2 linked regions of the Homo sapiens genome follow. The protein of the gene in region 2 interacts with the protein of the main gene of each other region in a biochemical or structural test. Each region holds a gene or a part of one and is shown on either strand. Other genes may lie near its edges.

Region 1 (7,038 bases), on a different chromosome or scaffold from region 2:
ACAGGAAGACTGGACAAACTACAACAAGTGACCCAGGATTCAGGTAGTGTGGTTCTTGCATCCCACTGGAACCCTATCTTGAGTGTCTTAGCATGTCCATCTTATACCTTTGCCTCTCACTGTATGCTTGTAATTAGCTCAGGAAACTGTGTGATTCAAGCATCTAAATGCAGTCACTAAACCTATTCATTCTGTCATTGCTGGGATAATCATCCTAGCAGTGTACTTGGAGGCCATCAAGTATATGTGGTAATTGCTTCAGCGTGATTTCCCATTGCAACAATAATTCATATTTGCAGAGTACTCCATAGTTTACAAAGTACTTCAGAGTTACAAAATGCTTTTAAACCCATTATCACAATCTATCGTTTAATCTCTTAATTAAAACACATTTAATTGATTTAATTCACCTATGATCAGGTTAATGTTGAACTTGAGAAAAACATTTAATTCATCCCAGCCAAAGATGTCACTGTAAAATAAAGTAACTTATCTAGATCAATGGAAATAGAATGAGGACAAAATACAAATGTGTGTAAGCAGTATTTTTTAATGTACTTTTGAAATTAGGAAATGGGGAATCTACAAACTATACTAAAGTATTCTTTTATCTCTTCCTATTACTTAAGAGTTTCACTATTATAGCTAAAATTATAGAAATAAAATGTCTAGCTTGAACTACAGTACTTGTAACACTGAGATGTGGAATAAGTTTTGTTACTGAATGAAACCCTTTTTGAAACTGCTTTGTCTTTCCTTAACAGCAAAATAAGGATTGTTTCATATTGTCTCTTAAAATCATATTGTTTAAAACAAAAAATGTTCCTACAGTGAACAAGACTAACAAAGGTACTTTACGTTTTTGGTATAAGGAGGGAGGGGAGCGATGCTCATAAAATTAAAGCATGTTCACTGTTTAAAAATCTGAAGTAGTAGGCCGGATGTGGTGGCTCACACCTGTAATCCTAGCACTTTGGGAGGCCGAGGTGGGCAGATCACCTGAGGTCAGGAGTTCAAGACCAGCCAGGCCAACATGTTGAAACCCCATCTCTACTAAAAATACAAAAATTAGCCAGGCCTGATGTCAAATGCCTGTAATCCCAGCTACTTGCAAGGCTGAGGCAGGAGAGTCGCTTGAATCCAGGAGACAGATGTTGCAGGGAGCCAAGATTGCGCCACTGCACAACAGCTTGGGCAACACAGCAAGACTCCATCTCAAAAAAAAAAAAAAATCTGAAGTAGAAAATAGTTACTCCTCACTAGAATCCCATTCTTAGTGATTACCACATAAGTTTGACTCCACTTATTTTGAAAAGGTCTTTTCCTTAACCAATTATTTTTCTTGACAGCTTCCTTAACAAAAGGTTTAATTGAATTTAGAAAGTAATAAATATCTAACAATTACTGAGCACTCATTATGTACAGACATCATGCTAAGCACTTTACAGGTAATAATTTATTTAATCCTAACAACAACTCTACAAAGTAGGCCACTATTACTATCATCCTCATTTTACAGATTGACAACAGAATGTTGAAAATAACAAGCTCTGGTAAATTAGAAGAACCAGGATTCTAACCGAGGCAGTCTGGCCACAGAGCTCCAGCCCTTAACCCACTACCCTGCACTGTCCTTCACAAACTCTCACTTTTACAAAGTTAACTGCGACTTAAGAAATGTTAAGTAATCTGCCCAAGGTCATGCAAATAGAGTGGTAGAGCTGGATTTCAACTCTGATTATAAATCCATTTCTGGAGCCTGGACTACCCATGCTATATAATCCAATCCATTCACACCACCACCCATTGGGTGTTTCTTTGCTACACAGCACACTGGCCCTCAATAATCACTACCCAGCAACCAATTCTCTCTGACAAATCCAGACAAAAGAATCAAAAGGCAGACTGGGCATCAAGCTACATGGGTTGTTTGACTCTCATATAAGATGGATGTTACTTCTCAGTAAAATCATGGGCACTACTCAAAACTAACATGTCACTTGTGGACTCTGAGTCTCAGAATATACAGCACTGATGTAGTTCTCTCTTAAGTGCAATTCTAAAATTCCATGTTTCTAGTATAAACCTACATAATTAATAGTATTACGTTTCTTTTTGGGTAAAAGAAAAATGATAAGAGATAAAAACAGTAATCTAAAAGTACTAAGGAACAGATGCTATTAAAAGAAAATGTGATGGTACAAAATCTCTAAGAGAAGGCTTTTAATTACTTCAAACGTTTATTGAATTCCTGTGTAACTGACACCAGGCACCAGGAATAAAGTTTAGTAAGACACAGTCCTGCCTTCCAAGTACTCATGGCCTAGAGGTCTGTCTGACTAGTCAGCTAGTCTAGTCAGCTATAGACTAGATGCTACAGTAGCATCTCCATAGCCTCTTAGAACTCAACAACTACTTGGACAAACACTGTTGTCTGTGAATTGAATTCAACTGCCAAAAACAAAAAACAAAAAACAAAAAAAACACAAAACAAAACAACCAACCAACCAACCAAAAAATCAAAGGCATCTGGCATTACAAATAGCATAACTAAAACTTAATTTTTCAAAAGCAGCACCCCAAGCCCTGTGCAAATGGAACTAGAATCAACCTAGTTGACTGGAACTAGATGTCTAATTTATTTATATCTGTATTACTGCAAACTCAGATTTCAGGGATGCTCTTATTGCATTAAAAGGAGGTGCTCTTATTTTCTACCTCTTAACTCACTTCCTTTGAATGATTGTCACACATCCAGTTCCTCTGTCTCAATTTTTAGTTCCCTGTTTTACCAGTTATATGCTTTCACAAGCCACTCCCCTCCAGCCATCTTTGCATTCGTGTCAGCCTTCTATCCTTATGGACAGCATAGAGACCAGATTTAAGCAGCTCCCATCTTACAGTTCCTTCACTACAGGACATCAACATACATTCCACAAGTACCTGTGTAAAGCACAAGGAACACTGCTGGCAAAAAGGATTGACCATTCTTCCATACCTAACATTTTTTTTTTGTCTCTAAATTAAAAAATACAGCTCAGGTAGTTTTGTATCTTCTCAAGGGGCTGAATGAAGTATAATCAGAATGATAATTATAATGAAGATTAAAACCATATATAAAATATTTACTATGTGTCAGATACTATTCTAAGCAGTTTATCTTATTTAATCACCACCACAACACTCCAGTTTACATGAAGAAATAAAGAAACTGTGGCACTTATAGCAGCTGAGTAATTTGATCAAGGTTATATATCTGCTTAAGTTCCCAGAGCACAACACTGAAAATCATTTAACCCATCAGGGAGCTCCACCACAGAATAGCAATCCACCTTGGGTATAAATGAAAGAAAGAAGGCAAAAAGTATTAAAAACAACAGAGAGGGAAAAAGAGAGACACAAAATGGAAGAAATCAAAGGAGAGAAAGGAGACAAGGAGAAGTTTATTCCCTGATCAGTCCATAAATCCTCTAACTCATTTCAAAAGTCATGCCAAGAATATTCTAAGGATTTTAGGGACCAATTTAGAAGGGAGATTTGGATAGCAATGGACTCAGTCTTTAAAGGCTCTATTTCCATTCCACCTCAAAAAGACCAAGACTATTCCCCAAAACAAACCTAATCAACCAGTTCCCTACTACAGAGGACAACAGGGGGTTAGAAATCTCGTATGGATTACTAGCATCCTCTGCCTTCAAAAGCTGTGGTATGGAAACCAGCCTGGCTCTCTCAAGTGCTACAATGATCTCAGAATCTTCCAGAATTACTGCAATGTGCAGAAGCACAGCTGGGGACCACATCAAGCTTTGGTCAGCAACAATTCTTGCCCTTTTATTTCTCACCTGATATCATTAAGCAAATCAGTTGCACCCAGAAAGTAAAACCAAATCCTTAGCACAGACCTAGAGTATAGGCATGTATGTTCTTTTTCTACCTTCACAGAAAAAGAGAAATAGAAAATATATATCCTCAACTTACAATGGGGCTACATCTGGATAAATTCATCATAAACTGAAAATATCTAAGTCAAAAATGTTTCATAAGTCAAATTCTACTTATGATATTTTCAACTTATGATGGGGTTGTTGGAACATAATCTCATCATAAGTTGAGGTGCGTACTGAATGCATATCACTTTCATACCATCATAAAGTCGAAAGCTCACTAGTCAAGCCTTATCTTAAGCTGGAGACCATCTGTATACTCCCCAGTGTGGAGGAAAGTAAGACAGTAGCTAAGAGAGGCTATGCTAAGGTTTTGAGCAGCACTCTTCTTCTCTAAAAACTTTTCTATCCACCATCAAAGATAGGACCACTGTGCTTCTCTTCTGATTCATTAATGCTAATCTTGGGTTGAAATTTTCTATGAACATCTTATAGAATTTCTTAAATATTATTATCAATAGAGATACTACTGAGATCTTACAGTCATTAAGAGATGTACTAGGTACCAAGAAAAACAGTAAAATTCTATGTAAGCACACAGCAGGTAGGTATGTGTGCAAAGCACCCACATGTGCACACATACCCTCATGAGCAACATTATTTATCAGGTACTGATTGTTCATGAGATCTTACATTAGATATGAAGCAATAGAAAATGAATAAGGGGCTGGGCGTGGTGGCTCACACCTGTAATCCCAACACTTTGGGAGGCCAAGGCGGGAAGATCACCTTAGGTTCAGGAGTTCAAGACCAGCCTGGCCAACATGGTGAAACCCTGTCTCTATTAAAAATACAAAAAAATTAGTCGGGCATGGTGGCACACGCCTGTAATTCCAGCTACTCAGGAGGGTGAGTCAGGAGAACTGCTTGAACCCGGGAGGTGGAGGTTTCAGTGAGCCAGGACCGCAACAATGTACTCCAGCCTGGGCAACGAGAATGAAATTCCGTCTCAAAAAATAAATAAACAAATGAATAAGGTACCTCAATGTCAAGTAACTGTGTATATGTGTTGGGGTATGTTTTTAGATAAAAATGTCTTATAACAATGTCTTATAAATATCATTCCAGGCTTTTTTTAAGCTTTTCTTTAAGGGATGTTTCTAGACATGAATAAATTTTACTGTACTTACTGCTAAAATGTCTGCTTCTACAGGCAGTAGGTTTAAGAATGCAAAGAGCTGGACAGTCAAGATGGTGTAGACTTGTGTGGCTGACAGCATGAGCATCCCTATGGAGAGCAGCATCTCGTTGTAAAATCACCTGGAAGACAAGGATGTGAGTAACTGAGAGCTGGTGCTTTGTCCCAGGGAATAGATCATTTGATATATTAATTCCCAATGTCCAAAAATATCCCTTTTAATTATAAACATGTATTAACATTAAAAGTAAAGCTTTTATTTCAAAAGCATAAGAACTTACACAGATTTGGACATTTAGGTAAACACCCATGTTTAGTCAATACCTATGTAACTCATGATGACAAAGTTCTGTTTTAATCACAAAACAAACATCCTCCCACAGTGCTCAGTTTATAGTACAGCTTGTCTTACTAACCCAAATTTCAGAGAAACTAGATTTCAACCAAAATAATGGTTAAAAACATACACACAAGCATCTTTGCTTTAAAATTGAAAATTTTCTACAACTTAAAAAATTTTTACTTCTGGTTCAATATAAATTCACATGTAAATTTACTTTTCATTTGCTATTGTATATTGTACCAACATCAGAGAATGCCAAAAAATTAACAGCCACTTATAATAAAGGAATACTTTTTGTCCATTACCTCCTAACAATCTATGCTTTTTTCCCCTCTCTACGTCTGAATGGCAACAGCATAACTACCTCTCCCAACTTCATCCTGTTCACTATGAGTCCCTTTCTCTCTTTTAGCAAAAAGATACCGTGAAAAGACTAAATGTCAACCCATAAATATAAAAATTATCATTGGTAAGCCTCAATCAATTGTATTATATACTCTTAAACAAGTGAGAACGAACATTACAAAAACAAGGGCTTTTATAATGAATTATTTCATTAAATATCCCAAACTCATGTAATATCCGTTTTGATGATGATTAGTGTGGATAAGTGCTCTAGATATAGAAGCTGCCATATAGACTCAAACTCTGAATCTCTGACTCACACACTGGAAGTAAAATACCTGTGAATAATTTTTAAGGTACCATTTACAAAGCCACTAATATCAGAGATGAAATAAAAATGAAAACATGCTAAAGTATAGATTTGTTCCTTAACGACAAAAAGTAAATTAGTGGTTGCCTAGGGATTGGCAGGGCGTGGGGGGAAAGCTTGAGGGAGGGGAAAGGTGGGAATGAGAAATGACTGCTAATGAGTAAGGGTTTTGGAGGGGAGATGGTGAAAATGTTCTAAAATTAGACTCTGGTGATGGTTGCACAACTCTATAAATATACTAAAAATCACTGCATTGTACACTTTAATTGGTTGAATTTTATAATGTGAGAATTGTATCTCAATAAAGCTTTTTTTAAATGTCTAGATTTGTTGACATTCGTTTCTTAAGTAAAATACATTTCATAACATACCATGGTACAGAAAAGAGTTAACACAGCAGGCCTGAGATTGCTATCCCTAGAAAGGTCTGCTTGCAAGGTTGGCCCCTCGCTGGCATCTGGAAATTTAGATTTCAGGACAGTTCCCACTATTTCCTAGTAAGAACAGCTCAGTGTGCCTACACTTTACAAAAAATGTGGTTTGTGCTGAATACCTGTTTTCCTTCTAGGATCTAGAATTTTGGTGCATGCTAGACAGAGAGTGTCTATATTAACAACCCCTAATATAAACCCTGGGCACTGAGTCTCTAATGAGCTTCCCTGGTAAACATTTTACATGTGTTGTCACAACTTGCTTGAGGAATTAGACGCATCCCATGTAACTCCACTGGGAAAGGACCCTTAGACGCTTACACTGATTTACTCTGGACTTTACCCCATGTGCCTTTTCTTCTCACTGATTTTGTTTTGTATCCTTTTGCTGTAATAAATCACAGCCATAAGTACAACCATGTGCTGAGTCTTGTAAATGCTCCTAGTGAATCACTGAATGTGGACAA
Region 2 (6,685 bases):
ACATGCTGCAAGTCTATGGAAGTATTTCAAAGAGAATATTTGAGGAAGGAGAACTAGAACTGTAAGGAAAACCTTAGTCTAACTGGAAAAGTAACCTCACTCACAGTTCATGGAAGACCAAATAAAATGTGGGCCAATTATAAGAAACTAGAATATGTGAGTGTTAGGACTTAAGAAAACATTAGTTTAACTTTGTTTTAGGATGAAACAGACAAGTAGAGTCCCAAGGGTTTTTGTATTCAAAATCAATTAGGTATTGGCTGAAATTATTTTTTACCATCTGGGCAAGAAGGAACAAGAGGCAAGGCTTAAAGCTATTTGTATAAAAAAGATTTTACATTTTCTCAATATACATTTTAGAAAGACTGTCGCCCCCCCACTCCAGATCTCATCTTGCGCAATATGCCTAAGATACACTGCTCTTGATTTGTGAAATAATTGAGTTTCCGAATAATTTACTGAGTTTCTGAATATTAAAAATATGAGTAAAAAATAAATCGACATTAACATCTGCTTAATAGTGATAAAATATACTTTTATTTACTTTGTTGAGTCAGAGGGTTGTAAAAAAAATTATTGCTAAAGTAGATATCAGGCAAACAGAAAGGTGCTTTAGAAGTCCAGTTACCTTGGAGTTTATTTAAACTAAGAGAAAAAAGTCATAATGTTTTCATGCAATACATACTTGGTTCTCCAAATAACAACTGTGTGACATATAGCAGAAGGAATTAAGGAATGCTGCACTTGTGATCCATACAAAACACCAACATTTTAGGTTGTACATAATTAGAGAAATATCTGAAACACTTTTTAAAACACTGTAGTAGCCAATACATAGAGGCATGCCGTAGGTGGGCACAGGAATGCAGTTTAGAAAAGAAAAAAAAAAATCACATAGGAACTACTCAATTTCTTTAAAATCACTGAGCAAGAACAGCAACATTGAACTTTCATACTGATTTTACACAACTTCTATACAGTACCTTGACTTAAATCCAAGAGCAAAAGTTAAGACTCTCCTCCTCTATTTTTGGTAAACAACTGCATGGTAAACTTAGATGACTCTTCCCCCTGGATTTTACCTGGGAGTGGCCTTTTTACATTTTTATTTAAAAGAGGGCAGGTTTGGCACTTTTATACTGATGTCACCAATGTTAATATTTCTTGGGATCTCAGGAAGATTCATATTCTTTACAGCTGATACAGCACGGGCTGGAGCTCCTGCTAAGCCAGCCTGTATACAGAAGCAAATAAAAGAAAAAGAAAATGTACAACTCAGGTGTAGCTCATCATAAAACACTTACAATGGAAGACAATGATAAAAGATTTTCATATAACAAGCTTAGGGACCAGATGGTAGTTTGAATTGGTATGGAATGGTTACTTTGAAATACTAATCTATAAAGAGAAAACAGTGACACATTAAAAAATACAGTGAACACATGCAATGATAACAATGTAAAGATTTAAATACAAATTAATGTGCACTACCACACAATATTCACATGATAAAACCTAAATCTTCACCTATATCTTGATTTAACTGACAGATAGCATGAAGCATGATTTACATTAGTTTCCTTATTAAATATCTCTTGCAACGATTGTGATAGATTTTCTTTTGCTTTTAAAATGGCATTTATTAGCAATATGTGCTGTGAAATAAAAATTGCAAGTAATAGATTGTGCTTGTTTAATTTCTTAGGGATAAACCCTTAAAACATTTTAAAACAATAAAATTAGTTTTTTAAATTGTGAGGGCTCTTTTAAACTTTTCTAATAAAGTTCTAGAACATTAAAAAAATAGGCTTTCAAGTAAAGCCTCAATCCAAAGAATATAGTTCTGCCTAAAGATGAAACTACACGAAGAGGATCATTCCAACCCTTTGATGCATTAGTAAAAATATAACGATTAAAAATGTTTTGTCATATAGCATAGATTCAGCAACATATATTCAGCTTACAGTTTACAAATTTAGAGAAAGAAAAGCATAAATGCAAGAGGTAGTAAATATAAATAAATGAATTCTAAAATTTCCAGTAAGTACCACTAGTGCATAATATTTGGCTTTCCTATTAGTAGGAACATTTGTAATTTGTGAAATAATTTTAAAAGAAAATATGCTTACAAATAAAAGAAAATGCATACATATCATTTTTCTCACCTACGTTAACAGCCTTCATATTTGAGGTTTAATTTATATACCAATTACATTTCATTACTTTTTATTCAGGCTATATAATAAAGCAAAGTCAACAAAGACATCTGAGTTCAGTGGCATCATTTTGTACAAAAATAGACAACAAAAACGAATCTTCCACTTTGATTAGATTATATATGGCAATGTCCATAAAATTAGAAACACTAGCTTTAAGGTCCCTTTTCATAATTTTAGTTTTCTTTTCTTATGTAATCCTACCTTTGTTAATTAAAATAAAAATAATAATAAAGCTGTTACCTGAGAAAAATCTTGACTGATACAAAATAGGCCAGTGTAAACTATTTGCTAAATAAAGGATACAAACATTGTTAAGCAATGAAATAAAAGCCATGGATTATCAATTCAGAATTGGAAATAATAGAAAAATTAGTAGAATAGTATTAATAATAAGTATATTCTACACAGGCAATGATAAGAGTGATACAAATGAATAACTCCATACCCAATTAAATAGTGAATAGGGCTGGAGAAGTTTTATAATTTAATGGATGTTAGTTATTTTTGATGTACAACTAAAAATGTGATTGACCTCTATACTTATACCTACCTGAAGCAATGAAGTTTTTGTTACCCCCCCTTCCTTCCTGCTCCCCCAAAGATGTTGGAGATACAACTAAATAATAATTAAGGCAGCATGTATAATATTTGAAAGGGTCTTTAATTTGATCGTTTCAAGTTAAAGGTCTAGCTACCAAAATTTAGAGTGGGTTGGGATCAAAGAAGAATCCAATTCAAAGAGGTTTACCATCTTTTGGCTTTCTTTTACCAGGAAGTATGTTGTCTACTAAGGAAGAAAAATTTACAAAATTGCAGACGTCCTGGAGGTAGTATCATTTTTTAGATAGGAGGATTTTGTAATTTTTCTAGTTAAAAGACCAATTTGCCACTATTTTTACTTAGGAATTTCCATAAAGAAGACAAATAATGAACTGACTATAGAAAAGTATTGACAAAATATTTGAGTATAAATATTTTAAAGGTGTGAATTATTAAGGGATTTTATTATTGTGAGAGAAATTGTGCGTGTGTGTGTGTGTGTTTATCTGTGTATTTTATTGGACACTATGGTTTACACTTATAAATAGTAAACATAATGTTTTCAGTATTAAATGTACATGAAGCTCTCTTTTCCATAATATCCTGTACCATGAAGAGCTAAACTAAAGCAAAAAATAAATTAAAAAAATTTAAAAATGCATCCTGTTAAATTTCATTAGATTGAGTTGTATCATTGTGACCAAAGATGGTGTCGACTGTTGGCTGCTAACAAGAATACATAAAGTCAATATAGCAATTGATTTAAATAGCATATTTGTGCTTAATATGTAAAACCAAAAGAAGTTTCTAAGTACAACAAACTACAATTCTTCTAAACATAAGCAGCAAGCCATAGACATGCAAAAGATAGGAACTATTCAGAACACGCAAATGAATTAGGAGGATCAAATTATTTCTCAAGCATGTTCAATACTTTTGTGTAGTATGCCATGAATTTAAATGGTAGGAAAATTTAAAGTTGTAATAGGTGCTTTAAGTTTTAATTAAACTAACGTTTTAAAAAGAAATCATATTATGCAAAATATAAAATGTTGAGAAAATATGATAAGGACAATTGATCAACAGATGTTTAAACCAGCTAGCAATGTTTATATATAAAAATTTAGGGCTAAAAAAAAAGACTTTATGTCACTCAGTCAACACCAGAATGGCTATAAAACAAATTTCATTTTCAGACATTCATGAAAGTGATGCCTGAAACATTTTTATTAAAACATAAAATGTAAAGTAACTTTCCATTAGGCAATCAGTTTGCTGACACAGAGGTATGAAGTAATTTTCATCTTGGTTAAGATTTTTTTTTTTTCCAGTAAGATACATTCAAAGCAACAAAATAACTTTTACTAACACTTAACTTTTCAACGCTAAAACTTACAGAAATTGTTTACCTGACTTGTTAGCAGTACAGTAGTCCCCCCTTACCCGCAATTTCACTTTCCATGGTTTCATTTACCCGTGGTTAACTGTGGTCTGAAAATAAGTGTGTGCAGTACAATATTGTGATAGAGAAAGGCCTCAATCACATAACTTTTTTTTTTTTTTTTTTTTTTAAGAGACAGGGTCTCACTCTGTCACCCACAGTGGAGTGAGTGATGCAATCATGGCTCACTGCAGCCTTGAACTCCTGGGCTCAAGTGATCTTCCCATCTGTCTCCTGAATAGTTAGAACTACAGGTGTGTCCCACCACGCCTAGCTAATGTAAAAAATATACATTTGTAGAGATGGGGTCTCACTGTGTTGCCCAGACTGGCTCAAACTCCTGGCCTCAAGTGAGTCTTCTGCCTTGGCCCCTCAAAGTGTTGGTATTATAGGCGTGAGCCAGTGCACCTGGCCTCACATGACTTTTATTGCATTATACTGTTATAACTGTTCTCTTTTATTATTAGTTGTTAATCTCTTACCGTGCCTATTTTATAAATTAAATTTTATCATATGTATATATGCATAGGAAAAAACATAGCATATATAAGGTTCAGTAGTATACACAGTTTCAGGCATCCACTGGGGGTTTTGGAATGTACCCAACACAGGTAAGGGGGGATTACTGTAAATACATTTTTAAACGTAAAAGTAAGATATTTCTGACAGTACAACATAGTTCTTAAAGATTTAAGATTATATAGTTGACACACAGCAGAAATAAAAAGAATGAAATTCTACTGGAGAAATAACTTGTTTCCATCTATGTTATACCTGAGCACCACCATGGCAGGTAAAACTGCAGCGACTACACCAATAAAAACAAATATATGAATCCAAAGCAGTTAAGAATATGAACTGGATGAAAGAATGAAGTACAGTATATAAAAGAATGATCATGTTTTCTCTCCCATGAGATTAAATAAATTAACAGAATTAAGAGAAAGAAAACAAAATGAAGTCTGCAAGTATACCAAAATGAGGCCAAACAGATAAAGACTTATACAGACATACTCTTGGAAATTTCAAGCACTTGAATCACAAAGATAGTAATGGATGGATATGATTTGTTTTTGATTTTGTTTTTAAATTGCCAGACCCAAAAATAAACAAAATATGTGCAAGCAAAACTGAAAAAGCAGCATTACTAAAATGTATTTCGAAGACCCTGAAAGCTCCCTTTTCCTCATGCAATAAACAATCAACTTTCTTGAAGGGAAAAGGAAAGTAATAGAGTAATCTTGTTATTTATTTCATCTAAGACATAAAATACCATCCTACCATCTTAAAATATCTTTTTTTTTTTCAAGTTTGAATACAGCATAATAAGATGGTAGTTGGAACAAACTGTACGTATTAAAACCTTTACCCACCCTTCCTGCTGGAAGTTGCTATATGCACATTCATAATTTTGACCTAACAGCAAAGTGAAAGAACACCAACATTAATAAACACAATATTAAATGGTTTCAGACTCAAAATCATTAACAAAATAATGGCAGATTTTGAAAGCATGTTTTTGAGCAAAAAAGAAAATGTCAATAGTTTAAAAAATCCCTCAACACGAGGTAGAATAACTTTTAATCTGGGGATATATAATAGGCTTTGTTTTAATGGCAGTGCTTTAATACTGCAATTATAAACATTTAGATAAGCTCATGACAATTCTCTAGACAGCAATAACTATGGTGTTTCACAGTTTTAACAAAATTAGAGTGCTCAAAAATTTAAAAAACCTTCCAAATTATTAGTCATTTTGTACGGATTATCTTCAATTATAGCTTTAATTTCAAACATAGGATTTGCCTGCATGAAAAAAAGAGAGCAGACTAATGACTTTCATGGATTTATCATTACTAGTTTTGACCATTACAAGTGACCTCAAGGGTTCTCACCATAATTTTGTAGAAGTACAAGACAAATGTGTATGTCAAGGTAGAGAGGCAGAACCAGCTCATGAGCTGACCTTCCACCATCAGTACCTTAGAGCCACTTTTCTTATTCTCTCCTCTTTGAAAACAGAAACTTGATTTTTTTTAAAAAAGGCCAATTAACAGTTCTAGCAATAAAGTTAACAGACCCAAGTGATTAATGGTTCTTTGCTGGAAAATAGCAGTAATAAATTACATACTGTAACACAGAAACTGGCAATAATTCTGACCAATGGTGAGAATGAGACTACTATGTATTCTCTATATGAGGGACAAAATAACATGGATAGAGGGACCAAAAACGGTACCCCAGTTTTGTGACATAGCCCACAATCTCAAAATAAGATACTATAAAGCCACCTGTATGTTGCTACTTCTTCTCAAACACATCGAGAGAGTAAGTAAAAATTTAGTGGCTAAAAGGCAATGCTTTGTGATATCACCACAATCATCAATTCTCAGTGATGTTTTTCTAATTAGTAAGTGCATAATCTAACTTCGTAAGTTTATACATTTTTTCCTCCATAGGACTCAATAAATTACTTTTATTTTGA

The links. The genes of interacting proteins can lie anywhere in the genome.
Region 1: the proteins of AP3S1 (region 2) and RNF13 form a complex in vitro, tested with the Homo sapiens proteins (one study listed by BioGRID).

The regions. Positions count from the first base shown.
Region 1 is NC_000003.12:149,844,177-149,851,214, reverse strand, and holds part of RNF13 (E3 ubiquitin-protein ligase RNF13 isoform 1 precursor), read right to left. Parts: intron 5,205-7,038; 5' UTR 5,189-5,204; coding exon 5,075-5,188; intron 1-5,074. UniProt on the Homo sapiens protein: E3 ubiquitin-protein ligase that regulates cell proliferation. Involved in apoptosis regulation. Mediates ER stress-induced activation of JNK signaling pathway and apoptosis by promoting ERN1 activation and splicing of XBP1 mRNA.
Region 2 is NC_000005.10:115,907,911-115,914,595, reverse strand, and holds the end of AP3S1 (AP-3 complex subunit sigma-1), read right to left. Parts: intron 2,508-6,685; coding exon of another isoform or gene 2,460-2,507; exon of another isoform or gene 1,241-2,459; intron 1,235-1,240; coding exon 1,106-1,234; 3' UTR 515-1,105; downstream 1-514. UniProt on the Homo sapiens protein: Part of the AP-3 complex, an adaptor-related complex which is not clathrin-associated. The complex is associated with the Golgi region as well as more peripheral structures.